Regions from separate parts of the Homo sapiens genome. Here region 2 is linked to region 1. The links come from fine-mapping of genetic effects on gene expression. A gene starts in region 1. The other region holds a variant in brackets. All regions are shown on one strand. Distances are between the middles of the regions.

What was found. PIP is the estimated chance that this variant, and not a neighbour inherited with it, causes the effect.
Region 2: its variant is fine-mapped to the expression of ITGB8-AS1 in pancreas (GTEx, PIP above 0.99).

Annotation. Positions count from the first base shown.
Region 1 is chr7:20,328,153-20,336,493 of GRCh38, forward strand. ITGB8-AS1 (ITGB8 antisense RNA 1) reads right to left here and starts at 3,610. Exons shown (of 3, transcript NR_110120.1): 1 at 3,498-3,610; 2 at 1,215-1,361; 3 at 149-704. ITGB8 (integrin subunit beta 8) reads left to right here and starts at 2,748. Exons shown (of 14, transcript NM_002214.3): 1 at 2,748-3,781. The coding sequence starts at 3,655. RefSeq lists enhancers at 1,369-1,981, 2,069-2,138, 2,239-2,528 and silencers at 2,609-2,998, 3,469-3,708.
Region 2 is chr7:20,377,970-20,386,310 of GRCh38, forward strand. ITGB8 (integrin subunit beta 8) reads left to right here. Exons shown (of 14, transcript NM_002214.3): 4 at 1,082-1,328; 5 at 2,697-2,862; 6 at 3,758-3,916. Among named protein-coding and RNA genes, the nearest start is that of ITGB8-AS1, 50 kb to the left of the region's middle. The variant C/T (reference allele first, on the strand shown) is at 3,627.

The DNA of each region.
Region 1 (8,341 bases):
CCTGGAATGAATAACTAAAATGTTATTTTTAGACTATCTGTGAATTTCATTTCCTCTCATTACCACAAATGATGAAAAATTAGCTGTCAGAAATTTCAAAGCAATATAGCAGAACATGATGGAAAAACAAATTAATCAAGTCACCATCTTCCGAAACATTTTTCCTTTATTAGAATTCTTCAGGTAATATGACGAAGATAACAATACTGCATTTCTTTAAAATATGCTGTACATTTCCTCATAGGAAAAAGGGTGAGTTATGGTGACCAGTGACATTAACTGGAAACAAGCAAACTTTTGGTTCCTGGGCCACTAGTTGTATTTACTTTAAGAAAACCCTAAAGATGATTTGCAGTCTTTCAGAGAGTTTACTTTTATGTTTACAGCCCAAAATGTGCAGATAACTTGTTTGTAAATAACTGGCAGGGGTCACAGTGTCACATCTAGGAGATTTCATTTTATTTTATTTCGACAACCAGAGTTACAGCCTCTTTACAACTGAGAAGTGGTAATAAATGGTATTGTGCTTATTCTTCAACAACTCCATAGCACTGGCACCTGACATATATTTGCATGAATTTCATGTAACAAAATGTAGAAATCTTTCTTTCTAAAGGGCTTCAAAATTTCCCGAAACAGACTTCTGAACTTCATTTTATTCCTCTTGCTACATGGTTGTTCTGGATTAGTATATATATCAACACCTAAAAACAGAGTTACAAAAATTAGTGCATACCTCATCAATTTCATAAAGTTACATCCTTTCTTGTTTGCATACATTTATATTTTATTTATTACTGTAACTGCCACTTACAACCCAGCAACAAAGAGTTGTATTTTAGAATATTATGGAATGGTGATATGATAGACACTTTAAAGTGTATTGACATGTCCTTATGGGAATTAGGGATTTAATTTTTTTTTTTTTTGATTGAAGCACTGCATGTCTCAAGGGTGGCTGCATTCAGTAGGTCTGTGACATAACCCCTGGAAAATACCCAGGCTGCCCAATGGAAGAGTCACTAATCAGATATTGAATATGATATTTTTGTGTTCAAATTTTCAAGTCCTCACACCCATCCTAACTAATTTTTAGGCCTTTCCTTTAAGACAACCAAAAAACAAAACTATAACTGTTCAAACTTGGAACTAAGGAAAGGAAATAAATATTAAAGCGGAGCTGGATTTATTTCTATTTATTTAGAGTACATCACCTCCAGTAGAATTATGTTGCTAAGGTTGGGATCACGGCTTTGGTCTCGCGAAGGGACCTGCTTTGCAGATCCAGGGCTCGTTTAATTTTCCAGCTGGGTTCCTGCTTTGCTTAACTAATCCTGTGCACCCCGTTGTGCGGTCCACACCTGAAAGGGGGAGTTTCGATGTTGTGGTTTATTAACCAGGTACTTTCCATTCACTCAGTCAACAGAAAGAAAGAGAGAGACCGCGCCTCCTACTTTTTTTTTTTTTTTTTTTTTAACTACAAATAAGGAGACGGAAACTATTAAATAAGAAGGGGGGAAACTCCCGCATATTTCACCTTGACCTGGCTGGACTGGTCTGCTGCCTCTAAGAGGCGGGTGTTGTATTAAAATGAGAGGTCAAACTCCTCGAATGGGAATCGCTCCTGCCCCTAGAGGGAAAAGAGAACCATCACCGTGTTAAACTGGAAACACTGCCTTGTTTCCAATGCGGGGGACTGAGTTCCCTCCCTCGACTTAGCGTGGTAATGACAGGACCCGAGGAGGCGCGCTGCTTCCGGGCAGTTGCCCAGCATAACACCCGCACCCTACTTGCACCTAAATTTCTGAGCTGCAAGCAGGCAGAAGTGCCTTCCACTTTCTCTCCTTAGCTCCCCTCTCCCCGCTTTGCTGCTGTCTGTAACTTTTTGTTCCGTTTACTGGGAAGGTGACGCTTAAGATCAAAAGACCCACTGTAACTTGCAAAAGCCCAGAGCCACCACCAGACGCTGGGGAAAAACAGGGCTGTCCAGTCCAGGGTTAAGGTTTTGAGCAGAGAAGGAGCAGCGAGAAATCTCGGCCAGTCGCTCCGGGAACAGCCCCTGCAGACTGGTCCAACTCTCCAAAGGCTAGGGACACCGGGGCAGCCTTGTGGTGGGGTAGAGGACGAGCTCCTAACTGCAAGCAAAGTGCTGAGTAGAGGGCGTTGGGGGCAGGGGAGGTCCCTTGACTCCACTTTGTATGCAGCAGCTGCGGGGCAGTGAGTATCTCCGAACAAAGCGGCGAGCAGCGCGGGGGTGAGAGATTGGGGTTTGCTCGCAGCTGCCGCTGGCGCTGAGCGAGTCTCCCACCACCCCCGCGAGCGTTGGGGTGCAAGGATTCGGGGGAGGAGGGAGAAGGGAACGAGGCGTGCCATTCCTGTTGCGCGGCTACGCTTCAGGAGTTCTTGTGAACGATGGGAATGGCAACTATCAGAGCCAAGGGGGAAAAGAAAGAGCTGGAGTGAGCAAAACAAAGAGCGAGTGTGGGCCGCGGTGACTTCATGCCTCACCAATGTCCCGCCCACGCTGCTCCGAGCTGTTACTGCTGCTCCTGCCCGGGCTGCAGCCGCGCCTGCGGGCAGCCGAGGCGAGGCGCTCCGGTAGCGTGGGGAGGTTTCCTAGCAACTCTCTGCCCTGAGTGCACCCGGCTACCCGCAGGTCTGGAGCCCCCCGGGGGGCCAGAGCAGGACCACCCCTCTCCCGCCCATCGCCGGCCTCGCCTCTCTCGCATCCTAGCCGTGTGCACCCCAGAGCGCGCCAGCAACTCGGGCTCTGGACTGCGGGACGCCTGAGCCGCGCACTGAGGCGAAAAGGACAAGGGCACGCAGCCCCCGCCCCGCGAAGCCGGGCTCCGGCACCTCGCGGAACCTCCCCTCCTGCGCTCGCAGCCGCAGGCCCCACTCCCCGCCAGGGAGGGAGCGGCGATGCCTCGCTCTGTGCCTGCGGGTGTCGGCGGGTGCTTCTAGGGCGCTCCCAGAGCCGCCTCCCCCTGTTGCTGGCATCCCGAGCTTCCTCCCTTGCCAGCCAGGACGCTGCCGACTTGTCTTTGCCCGCTGCTCCGCAGACGGGGCTGCAAAGCTGCAACTAATGGTGTTGGCCTCCCTGCCCACCTGTGGAAGCAACTGCGCTGATTGATGCGCCACAGACTTTTTTCCCCTCGACCTCGCCGGCGTCCCCTCCCACAGATCCAGCATCACCCAGTGAATGTACATTAGGGTGGTTTCCCCCCCAGCTTCGGGCTTTGTTTGGGTTTGATTGTGTTTGGCTCTTCGCTAAGCTGATTTATGCAGCAGAAGCCCCACCGGCTGGAGAGAAACAAAAGCTCTTTTCTTTGTCCCGGAGCAGGCTGCGGAGCCCTTGCAGAGCCCTCTCTCCAGTCGCCGCCGGGGCCCTTGGCCGTCGAAGGAGGTGCTTCTCGCGGAGACCGCGGGACCCGCCGTGCCGAGCCGGGAGGGCCGCAGGGGCCCTGAGATGCCGAGCGGTGCCCGGGCCCGCTTACCTGCACCGCTTGCTCCGAGCCGCGGGGTCCGCCTGCTAGGCCTGCGGAAAACGTCCTAGCGACACTCGGCCCGCGGGCCCCGAGGTGCGCCCGGGAGGCGCGAGCCCGCGTCCGGAAGGCAGTCAGGCGGCGGGCGCGGGGCGGGCTGTTTTGCATTATGTGCGGCTCGGCCCTGGCTTTTTTTACCGCTGCATTTGTCTGCCTGCAAAACGACCGGCGAGGTCCCGCCTCGTTCCTCTGGGCAGCCTGGGTGTTTTCACTTGTTCTTGGACTGGGCCAAGGTGGTAAGTTGTTTTGTTTTGTTTTGTTTTCTTCTCTTCCCCAAAGGTCTTGGGCTGGCACGAAGAGCTGCCCGGCCAGAGCATCCCGGCCAGGTAAGTTGCGGTCATCAGAGAACTTCAAGGGGGCGGGTGCGGGGCAGCGTCCTCCAGCACAGATGGCCTAGAGGCCAGGTGTCAAGCATTTCTGCCCTGGAGCGACAGCAAGGACTAATTATCAGAGGAGACACTCTGTGTTACTCCTAGGTGTTGAGGAAGCCCTAATAGAAAGGAATTTTGGAAAAGAGGGTGTCCTGTTTACAGAAGTCATTTAGGGGCCCTGGTCCATTCTTAAGGGCATCGTCTGTACACAATGTTCTCCCTATCTTTCTAACATTTGGGTCCACTAAGGACTAACTTGCCTTTAACTCGAGGCTGTAGATAAGTTGGTTATAATGGGAGTAGTCTTCAATTTTTGAGTCCAGAAAAAGACAGCATACAAGTTTCTGCTATCATTAGTGCTCAATCTGAATGAATTACCCACACTGGAGGGATATTAATGCTTTAAGTCATCATCCTTTCGGCTTAAAAAAAAAAAATACTATCTAATTGATCCCTCACTGAGATCAATCTCTGAGACAGAGAAGCAGAAAGAACTCTGAACCAGGATTAACAGCTTTCTGTCCAGGCAAACCATTTGTGTAAGAGCTACCTTAATGTGGAGAGGTTAACTCTTTACGAAATGCATTGTCCTCATCTGTAAAACGAGGTTTATTAATAATACCTGCCTTCTCTAAATCACAAAGGAAAGTTCAAGTCAAATAGCATATGAGAAGGTGTTTTAGGACTTTTGATTTATGAAACAAAATCAAATGTAAGGTGGTATACCAGATTGGATTGTTGGAAAATTACACAACTAAGTAATAGGACGAATCATGAGTTTAGGATGAGTTCTTAATGGTTTTCAATATAGGCCCAACATTTATTTTTGCTAATGCAGTGACTCTTGTCATACTTTCTTTTTTTTTTTTTTTAATTTCACTTTTTCTCTGTTTGGTCACCAAGTCCTTAAATTATATTAGAGCCTTTCTCTGACCTCTTGGGCTCAAGGAGAGTTTAATTAATAGTTGTAATTGTTTTGTAGGTTAAAATTTACTCCTATACTTTAAAGTGTCAAGGTTTTGCCTGAAGCTAATTAAAACAGTCAAATCATAACCTTATAAGTAGGTTTTATATATATAGATATAGAGATATATGGAAACATCCAGCTATCTTTAGGAAATTGTTGCATATACAGTTTTCTAATATTTGTTTCAGGGAGATTTGCTCAGTTATCTGAAATGGAGAAATTAGAGTAAATCTCTTTATCTTGTGGTTATTTTTTGGCTTGTTTGTTGATTTCAAAATAGTGAAAAGGCAAAGGAAAAAGTAACATTCATTATCAGTTATCTCTTAAATGGAAGAAACATGCATTTGTTGCAGCAAATTTTCCGCTAAGCATAATTTCATCCTGTTTCAATAAGTAATAAAGTGCTTTTCTAGATTTAGTAAACACACATACACACTAGTAAAATGACCAAAATTTGTGTTAACACAGTATATTTTGTTCCCAACGTACAGGCAAAGGAAAAAGTCCTACTTGCCTCTAAAATTTACTATTTAAAGTACATTTTTAAAAACCATTAACTGTGCTTATAAACATTAGTCAGGCTCTTGTGAAAAAGCATTGCATTTCTACCCAGTGTCTAAAACTGATTTGAAGGAAATATTATGAATGGGCCTACTTGCACCTGCAGACCTGAAAAGGGAATGCTTATCTGAAATCAGAACAAGGCATCCTTTTCCCAGTCTCTGTCAATATACAAAGGTTTCTGATGTATACTGATTTGCATGGCAGTTAAAAACATGCAAAAAATGTAAATTATAGCCAGTATAACTCAGAAAATTAGAGATCAGCATAAACTGCTGTACTTTTGTGATATAGCTACAAGTCTCAAATTATATGTCTTTACAGTGCAAATTAGATGCTTAAAGCAGAATAGAAATTTAGGTATCAGTTACAATGGAAATCTTGTTTCCTTGCTCAGTAGTTTACACCAGGAGAATGTTGAGGGCAATAAAGCCATACAAAAGAGACCAGAAGCTGCATAAGACCAGCATAACTTTGGGTTTAATTTTTAAAGCAGAATTTATAGGTCTCGAACATATAGTGGACTTTTAATAACAAATATATAGTGAGCAGTGGGGGATGTTATTAATCAAATCCAAAGATTTCTGATGTAGCAAAAATTATAGCAGTTTGTTTTTTAACTGTCTCTGGTGAAGATTACCCACAGCTAGAGAAATAATAGCACTGTAAAATGGTCAATAAATAACCAGAAAAACATAAAGTATATCTAGTGGTTAATATTTGAAGAGTTAATGTAGCAACATTGTTTCCACATTTACTTATTTTAAAAGATTAAGAACTTTCATTACCTAAATTTTTATATAGCAATATAAGTGTAACAAATTTCAGATATCACAGTTTCTTTTAAAAAAGCGGTAACTATTATTGCAATCAAATTTCACCTTCTGTGTATTGCAATGAAATTTCACCTTCTGTTTATTCAAGTATCAATTATTTATTATTTTCAACAACAATCAACTAGATTAACATTATTTTGTGACCATATCATTACTTCCCCTCAAAGCGTTGCATAGCATAAGTGTTCCCAGAATTATTTATGCTTACCTAAAGTGATCGGATATTTAAAAGAACCAAGGTATCATTAACAAAAAATTCAGCCTTCTAAATTATTTGCATAATAAGCTCCCAAATTAATTCTATCTTGAAGCAATGGAGACACTTTCTGATCAATTAAAAATCATACATGTTTGCCCTCTAAACTGACAGCAAAGTAGCTGATATGCTTTGGAAAATTCCTGTGCCCCAAAATAACTTCTTCTCTTGTTACCAAATTATCTGAAATCTCACTACTTAATGGATTCTTTTTGGTTAACCATGGTATTAACCCTATGATTTTTTAAAGTTTTTAACATGGTATAATGGAAATTTTCAAATGCATACAGAATTAGAGAGAATGGTATAAGGGACCACTATATACTCATCACCCAGCTTCATTAACCATCAACTCAAAGCCAACTTCTTTCATCTGTGCTCCTGCTGGTACCCAATTCACCCCCTTCTCCCAACTAAATATTTTGAAAGAAATTTTTCATATCATTTTATTTTAAAATATTTCAGTAAATAAAAATACTACTGGAGGAGGAACACACTGTAACTAATCTTAAAGCATGAATTTTTTTAAAAACTGAAACTTAGGGCAACAAGAATGTTCACAATTTTTAAGGGAAGCAATTGCAAAAGAGAAGGACACGAGGAATGGGAAAGACACAGTTTCAACCATTTACTTTTCAATAGTTCTATTATAGTTCCATTAAAAATATTTTTATTTTGAAAGTATGGATATGTAATAGCTTTTTGATACGCATGTATATGAACAGAGAAAAACAACATGAGTAAATCTGCTTCCCGTGACAAATGTTAATTGTTTTATTCCAATGGAATCACAGCAGGTATACCTTGTAAAGTTTCAGTTTCAAGGATCTGCCTGCCCTTGCATGATTAGTTTTTCTCCTATCTACTGTATCATTTAAAGCAATATCCATATATGTGGCAAAACCTTTTTATCTCCTATTTTTTCTCTCCTTTTGCTATAAGTCCTTGAAAGAGTTGTCCGTAACTCCTCTCTCCGATTCTTCTCCTCACCTTCTCTTTGAATCCATTGTGAGCAGGCTTTCTTTATCACCTCTGCAGTCCACTCTCTTAAGATCAGGGTAACCTCCACATTGCCAGATCTGATGGCTAATTCTTAATCTCCATCCTGCTTGATGTATCATCTGTTGGTGACTTGACACTGTTGACCTTGCCCTCCTTGGAAACAGTTTTGTTGGCTTCTTGGACCCACACTCTCTTGGTTTAAGCTCCTTCTCCATCTCTGATGTTGATTCTTCCTCATTTCTTAACCTCTAAATGTAGTAGTGGCTCAGGACCCACTCCTAAGGACTTCTCTGATCCAGTCTTGGTTTTCTTTTTTTTTTTTTTTTTTTTTTTGAGACGGAGTCTTGCTCTGTCGCCCAGGCTGGAGTGCAGTGGTGCGATCTCGGCCCACTGCAAGCTTCGCCTCCTGGGTTCACACCATTCTCCTGCCTCAGCCTACTGAGTAGCTGAGACTACAGGCACCCGCCACCACGCCCGGCTAATTTTTTGTATTTTTAGTAGAGAGGGCGTTTCACTGTGTTAGCCAGGATCGTCTTGATCTCCTGACCTCGTGATCTGCTCGCCTCGGCCTCCCAAAGTGCTGGGCTTACAGGCGTGAGCCACCACACCCGGCCCAGTCTTGTGTCTTAAATACCATTTCCACATTGACACCTCCAGAATATTTATCTCTAAACCTGACCTCCAGAAGGTGCAGCAAATTGTGTAAACCATGTCTCCACTACACGCCTAAAGGCAAAGACCCTAACGCATTCAAAACCAAACTCCATTTTCTTGTCCAGTCTTCATAATCACACTGTGAGAGA
Region 2 (8,341 bases), 50 kb after region 1:
CAAATGAATGTTTATTTTAAAAATGTTTTCCATTCGGAATATTCTTATGGAAAAATAATGACTTACAAAGCATTTACTTAATAGTTTAAAAAAGTAAAATTTACAAATTACAAATTGCTTACATTTAAATAGATGCCTTTTCACCATATACTTGAAATTAAAAGTAGAGGTACCAACTCTATAGAGGGTTAGGGGGGACAACCCAAGTCCTTGTATCAAATAGTAATATGACAGAGAACTAAATAAAATTGTAGTTCCCTGCGGGGACTACCGACATTTGTCCTTGTGGCAGCCCCCTCTCCTCATCCAGTTGTTTTGCCCAAGGTGGGTGCCTCGCTCATGGGCCCCCTCCTCAGCATGTGTTCATTGAACACCTACCGTGTGTTGGACAAATGCTGACCCCTACCTTCCCCAGGTCCTCCATGTGGCACTGCAGGGCACCATTCTTTAGCCCACTGTCTCATTCCTTCACTTGGCTAACTGATGGGAAGAATCTTACCAACTAACTAGTGATGAGGTACTAATTATTTTGAATAGCTTGCTGTACTACACAGTACCAGAGTTTTCTCATCTCCTGTGTAAATACACTTTAACCCAAAGGAATAAATTTATGCCTTTATCCAATAGGAGATCACCTTTTTTTAAAGATACCTTCCCAGTTTTCCTCAAGTCATTCCACACGTACATCCCCCTCACTGTCTTGAGATCGAATGCCGCTTGCTGGTTTGCACTGTGTTTTTCTAGCTACTAAGGCAATGGAGGTTCATATAATGATACAATACCCTGTTACATTTATATGGAGCTGGCCCATTTGTTATTATCCCTATTCAGCCTATAGAATTGTGGGAAATGAACTGTAGGATTTGGAGACCAATAAATTGGTATGGTTTTCAAATTGCCTTATAATTATACTAGAATAATAATTATACTATAATTATTATAATTACACTAGCATATTCCAAATTTTATGTGCAAATTTGTGATGATTGTGCTAGGTGCTAGAATGTGACTAATTTATTAAGAGCTTATCCTGAAAAGTTTAAAATGAAGACTACATGATGTTTTTCTTCTATTGAACTAGGAGCCGAAGCTAATTTTATGCTGAAAGTTCATCCTCTGAAGAAATATCCTGTGGATCTTTATTATCTTGTTGATGTCTCAGCATCAATGCACAATAATATAGAAAAATTAAATTCCGTTGGAAACGATTTATCTAGAAAAATGGCATTTTTCTCCCGTGACTTTCGTCTTGGATTTGGCTCATACGTTGATAAAACAGTTTCACCATACATTAGCATCCACCCCGAAAGGATTCATAATCAATGCAGGTATCTAGGGTTTGATGTGGATATGCTAAATTAATTTTTTGCTTATAAAATCTCACTTTGTTTTTAATGTAAAGAACTTACCAAATTTTATATTTTTATCTTATAAAATAAGAATAAAAATATTTGGTGAGGTGGGGAGGTTTCTTCATATCTGAAAACTTCTGAGATGAACTGTAGATTGGGCTTTTTATTTTATATTTCTTTAAATATTTAGTCAGTTTTTATCACCAAAAAAAACAAAAAAACAAACAAAAAACCCTACCTAATGTTAGTAACTTTGAATGAAGCTTCAATAGTTAGGCTGCCATGTATATAAATACCTCTTTGGAAATTCTGTATTTTTATTTTTTGATTGCTCCAAAATTGCTGAATTATGATTTGACACATTTTAAAGAGTTTGTGCCAACACGTCATCTATCTCTCCATTACTGTACTGTGACTGGGGATAATGATGTTGTCTCCGATGTGACTACAAAGAAATCTCAGTTATCACAAAGAAAGTGGGTCAAAAGATGAGAATTTGATTGCTTAGAAAGAGCCTTTTTTCTTATCATTTTAGATTTCTGATTCTAAATAACATATGTCCCACTATGAAAGAAGAATTAGCCTTAAAAATACAAGTGTCTCACACAATATTGCCATTAGCCTGTGGAATTTTCAGAAAAATAAATCTGTATGGATCTTTTTTCACAAAAGACTTTATCTTTCTTGCTTCTACAAATTGCTTAGATTACTTTACAATACACATTCCAATTTACCGAAACAGCTCTGTCATCTGTTGTACCGGAACAGGATTGATGCATCCATCAATGGAGTTTCATAAGCCTTCTTGAGGTGAATGTACAGGAGGAATCATTCTTACTTTCTGGGTATCATAGATTCTCAAAATAATTTTAATGAATATTGATTGTTCATCAATAATTCCACCAAGCATCACTTTAAAAATTAGTGCAGTATTAAAAAAAACTAATATCATATTTCAACTAAATTCCTCAAAAGCATTTTCCAGAAGTGTTTCTCAGCTGTTCAATGATAAGAAATCACTGCACATTCTTATATTCACCTTAAAAATTCACAGCGCAGATTAAATATTGAAAGCCTTTAACTGTCCTATATTAAAAAACATGTTTAATCATCTTTATTTTTTTGAATACCAAATGCTTATAGTCTTATTTCCTATTTGCAAAGAAATTGTCATCAGCATTGAGCTTATCTCTAATTTTATAAGCATAGATTTTCGTCGTATAAAGTTTCCCTGGCACAAAAGAAGTACTCCCTTTTCACACAACTGTACAATTTTACTGTTAAGTATTCCAGAATGCTTAAGAAGAGCAAAATAAACTTTACACTTCTTCTTTTCCCACACAGTGACTACAATTTAGACTGCATGCCTCCCCATGGATACATCCATGTGCTGTCTTTGACAGAGAACATCACTGAGTTTGAGAAAGCAGTTCATAGACAGAAGATCTCTGGAAACATAGATACACCAGAAGGAGGTTTTGACGCCATGCTTCAGGCAGCTGTCTGTGAAGTAAGACGTTTCACATGATCGAGTGTTTGCTAAGATGCCAAACTTTCAAAGAATTTAGACGTTTTATTTTCTCTTTGATTTGTGGAGTGAAAACGTAGTGTAGAAGAAAACATATCTTACTATCTCTTACTCCTCACCAAGGTGATTCATTTCGGTATGTGTTTGGGACAGAGGGGCTAAATTCAGGGAGGGATTTAAATAGGAAAAGACAAAAGGGAAAGAATAGGTTATGAACGCGAAAATTCTTTCCAAAAGGGCTGCTTTTCTCATGCGCCACACTCCAAGGAGGAACTAGAAGTAGACTGTTGCCCTCCTCACTTCAGCTTGTTCTCCTACTTTTTTTTTTTTTGAGACGGAGTCTCGCTCTGTCGCCCAGGCTGGAGTGCAGTGGCGCCATCTCGGCTCACTGCAAGCTCCGCCTCCCGGGTTCACGCCATTCTCCTGCCTCAGCCTCCCGAGCAGCTGGGACTACAGGCGCCCGCCACCACACCCGGCTAGTTTTTTGTATTTTTAGTAGAGACGGGGTTTCACCGTGTTAGCCAGGATGGTCTCGATTTCCTGACCTCGTGATCCGCCCGCCTCGGCCTCCCAAGGTGCTGGGATTACAGGCATGAGCCACCGTGCCTGGCCTCTCCTACTTTTTAATCTATATTGTTCTTCCTCCAGTGGAACACTAGAAATCTCTAGCCAGGAACTAGTGTGGTCACATGGCTGTGGGAAAATAGAGGATGTACAAATAAAAGTTAAAGCTATTTACGCAGCAG[C/T]GTTGTACCCACGCACATCGTTCTAGCCTGACTTACTGTTCGTCAACTCAAACGTAATGTTTACTTGAGGTAAAAACCACAGTACACATCTGTGTTATTGTACAAAGTCTAATTACATGTTTATTTTTAAGAGTCATATCGGATGGCGAAAAGAGGCTAAAAGATTGCTGCTGGTGATGACAGATCAGACGTCTCATCTCGCTCTTGATAGCAAATTGGCAGGCATAGTGGTGCCCAATGACGGAAACTGTCATCTGAAAAACAACGTCTATGTCAAATCGACAACCATGGTAATGCAGCAGTAACCGCTTAGTAGATATGACTCTTTTGGTTAAAGTACAATTTTAAATTGGCAACTCAACTATTTTTGTACCAGGAAATTACCTACAAAAGAAAGATACAGAACAAGGATAAGCCATGAGAGAGAATTTATGGAACAGTGCAATCTATAAATACTGATCAATAAAATATATGAATAAAACAGTTTGACAGTTTCTAGTAGCTGACTCTTTGATGAATGACAAAGCACTGTATAATTTTTGAAAATAAAAATGATACAAGATTTTACTTTTTATGTAATTCTAAGACAGGGGAAAAAAGTATACCTTTGCTTTATACAAATAGACCAGGTCTACGGGGTCGATATCTACAAACATTTTAAGGAGGAAACCTCACAGTACAATAGGTAGAAACTAAATAGAAACCAGGGAAAAAAGACAAGAGAGAAAGAGAGTCAAACAAAGCAGGCTTTCTCTGTTTTGTACTTTACCTCTCTGCATCTTATCTATTTAAGGTCTCTTTTTAAATCAGTGACTATCTGGCTTGCTTCCTGAGGGTTAGTATAAGCTCTGAATCATATATTTAATATAATCACCTAGAACCATATCTTCCCTGGCATTATCTAATTCTAGTTGTGAAGAATCAACAGTCCAAAGCATCATTTACTTCTGATGTTGACACTTATTTATATATTCTTGCATATGTTAAAACAGAACCTCTCCAACTTTCTCAGTTCATGAGACCCTAGTCTCTCAGTGATTTTATTCCATGACACCCGTGGGTCAAAAGAAATACCTAATAGTTCTGTTTTTTTAAGTGGTTAAGTCCAAATAACTCAACTATTTATGTCTTAACAACTTAGTATCTCCTTAAAAATAATACAAATGTATCAAGTGTAGAGATACATGTTTCAGTTTTAGTAAGTAACTTCAGAAATTTTCAAATCCTGAAATCAGATTGGTCATCACTACCCTGATTTCTTCTTCCGTGTTGATTTTCAAGTTGACCAGCTTGGTAAAGATTAATGTCATTTAAAAGAATAGAACGAAATGTAATCTTAAAACTATGAACTCCCTCCAACTAGTTCTTCATTGGTACCTGATACATGCTGAATGTCACTGTATTTCTCTTGAAGATTTAAATTATTTCCTGCCACCCTTGGGAGTGTGCTGCAGTGCACCAAGACACCTCACACACAGTTTGGGAATCACAGTATCAGAAGCATGAAAATTATGCTGAAATTTGTGTGGTTCCCATGGGTAAATTTTAAGTAGATCACCAGTTCATCTGCAATACCCTACCAGATCTGTTGAAATTCTAGAGTGGCAATTGTATTACCATATGAAACAGGTTCAACACTTGGTCATTTTAGTTTCTTGAAAGTAGTATCAAAATATAAAGATTTTAAAAGGTAACTAGAGATTGAATTCAAAAATTCAAGAATTGGAGTTATTCCAATAGTGTCTTTCCATAATTCTCTTCTACTCAGCCTTATTTCACTTTGACAGACCCACCTACTTCTACTTAGTCATTTCTTATCTATCTTTCCTTCTATTTAACCTCTTTTGATTGATGGTAGAGTTCTAATTTATTTATTGGGGAGTAGGAGAGGGTACAGGAAGAATTATTCTATTGTGAGACAAAGAGAAGGTTTTTATTTTTTTAAGAAGAAAATAACAATGACATTATTCTCAAATTGTATTATTCTTTTGAAGTTTTGCCAAGTCACTGAAGTCATCTCTCCATAATTGTATTTAAAAGGATACTATTGCTCATCTAGGGAGGATTTCCTAGGCAAAGAAATGCTGTCATAATTTTAGGCATATACCATGTTATAGAACCTTATGGAAATAAGTTATAAGTCCAGTGGAATTTTAGATAGGGCTTGGATTCTTATGACATCAGGAAATTGGATGATTACATCAAGACCTTTTACCTTCTTGGTCATTGTTCCCAGTATTTAAAGGAGTGACCCTTCCACATGTCACTGCTGTAGTATATTGAGTAATCCAAGGAATAATGTGTTTGTTAACACCTTAGAAGGATACTTTTATTTTATTTACCCCAGGTCTTTGTTTTAAAGGATTATCTTCCTAAAAATTCTCATTCCCTTCATTTGTAGGGTCACTGCCTACATATTAGGTAAAAGAAGCTGAAGCATTTTGATTGATCCCTTGGCCATGAATTTATACATTCAAGATGTGCTCCTGCTTTGGAATGTTCTATATTGAAAGCTACCTTGACTTTGACTCTAGGCATATTTATTTGTGCATTTCAAAATGACCTCTATCCTCCCCTATTTGGCCATTATGGAGGAATTTTAAATTTTGTTTAAGACAAGTAATCAAACACTTTGCTTCTTGGCTTTATCTCCAGCAGCCAATGCCAATAATGTTGAATGGTATCTGAGTTTCTTGATTCAAGAGTCTTGGGGTTTGTATTTATAAAAGGAAACAACTGATTAAAAAACCCTTTATATGTCTAAATTACATGGGACAGAGTTCTGTTGCTTATACATATAGCTATTTCCTGAAGGTCAATGTGAACCCTAGACTAATAACAACTGCCATTTTATTGAGTATGTATTCAACTGAAAGCACTGTAGCAATCACTCTGCATACAGCATCAAATTTATCTTTACAACAACTCTATAAGGTAGTCATAATTAGCCTCCTTTTACAAACAGCAGGACTGAGGGTCAGAAAAGCTAAGTAAGTTGCCTGAGAATAAACAGCTAAAACATTAATAAATTGCAGAGTTGGCCCTAGTCTGTCTCAATCTTATATTAAAATCTGCATTCTTTACTTTGCCACAGTCTGTCGACTGAAATGCAGAAGAAAAAGAAAAATAATGTTCTTGTTGTCATTTCTTGTCTTTCTGGTTGCAGTCTTATGAAAGTATAACCAGATGATTTGACTTGCATAAGTTGTAAAACAACATATAAAATAATTTATATTTACACATTGTGATATTTGTATATGGTTGCTGGCAAATGATGTTACACTATTGAATAAATTACATTTTCCACTGCTTTTTCATCAAGATCAAGTGCCAGAATAAAAAACTGTAGCAATAGTATAGTTTTATGATTTATCCAGTGATAATGACAATTTGAAATGTGACATTCTTTCTAAAATGGCAGATGTTAATACAAAAATTATTAATGATGTAGTAGACTATTAATACTGAGGGTTTGGAATTTCACCCTGTCTCCCCACCCAGCTTCTCCAGGGTTATTTCTACCCTTAGTCAGAGCCCTCCCAGAAACTGTTCACCCACCCCTTGGTGGAGGCCAAGAATAGCATGAAGGTCTTCAGTAACAATGAAAGAAGACCAAGGAACAAGTATGTGGAGGTCATCCAATGAACCTTATCAATGGGATTTTCAGATGTTGATGTGACTCACAGTTTTAAATAGCGAGATTCAAATTGGCAAGATCCTACCACATTCCTATTGTATGTACTAGTGCATACCATATATTCACTAGTATTTACTGGTTTAGGCTTGGTGTTTTTCCATGCAGCCTTTTATATGCCTCATCACATTATGGCCAGTGATTCTTTATCCCTCCTATCATATACCTCCTCAGAATCCCCTTACTGCTGGCTTCATAGTTCATTCCTTTTCCTGCAGGCTCATTTGGATAGGCTAGCTGCTGAGTCGATCAGCATCTTATAGCATGGAGGCAGAATTGCAGAAGGCCTATCAGGCATTAAACAGTTTTGCTTTCTCACTGGCAAAAATAGTCAACACTGTGCCTCTCCTCATGCAACTTTAACATGTACTTGACTTTTAAGTATGCCATTTAGGAAGCTTTCTTTTTACTATGAATCTTATCTACTTGGAATTATACTTAATTTTTCCAGGACTGCAGATGAATAAAGAGAGCTTAAGAAGCTACTTTGCTAATGTAATCCATAACTTTGCTACCTGAGTTAACAAACGTTCATAACACTATTACATTTATTCTTTCTGAAAGGGATATTTCTGACATTTTCAAAGTCTGGAAAACATTTATAACTAATGTTGAGATCAGACAGAATTCCATGTGAGGAGATAATTGTGATCTTTTAATAAAGAGATCTGTTAATTTTGTTTGCTGTTTCCCGACAGAGACGTGGCCTTTTCTACTTCAGAAAATGTTAAATCTTTTTCTGCTTCTCAGGTTTGTCTCAGATGCATACTAATAAAAATGCAAATTCATGGAACACTTATTTTGTGCCAGGTATGGAATACAACTAGAAAGTTTTAAGTCCATGTGCAGCTTTTAAAAACGATTGTTCCATCTTTTGGGGCATCGAAAGACTACAAAGTACCTGATTTCAGCTTGCTGAATGATCTGCTTCAAATTGTAAACACTATGAGAACATTTTTTTTTTTTTGAGACGGAATCTCACTGTGTCGCCCAGGCTGGAGTACAGTGGCACCATCTTGGC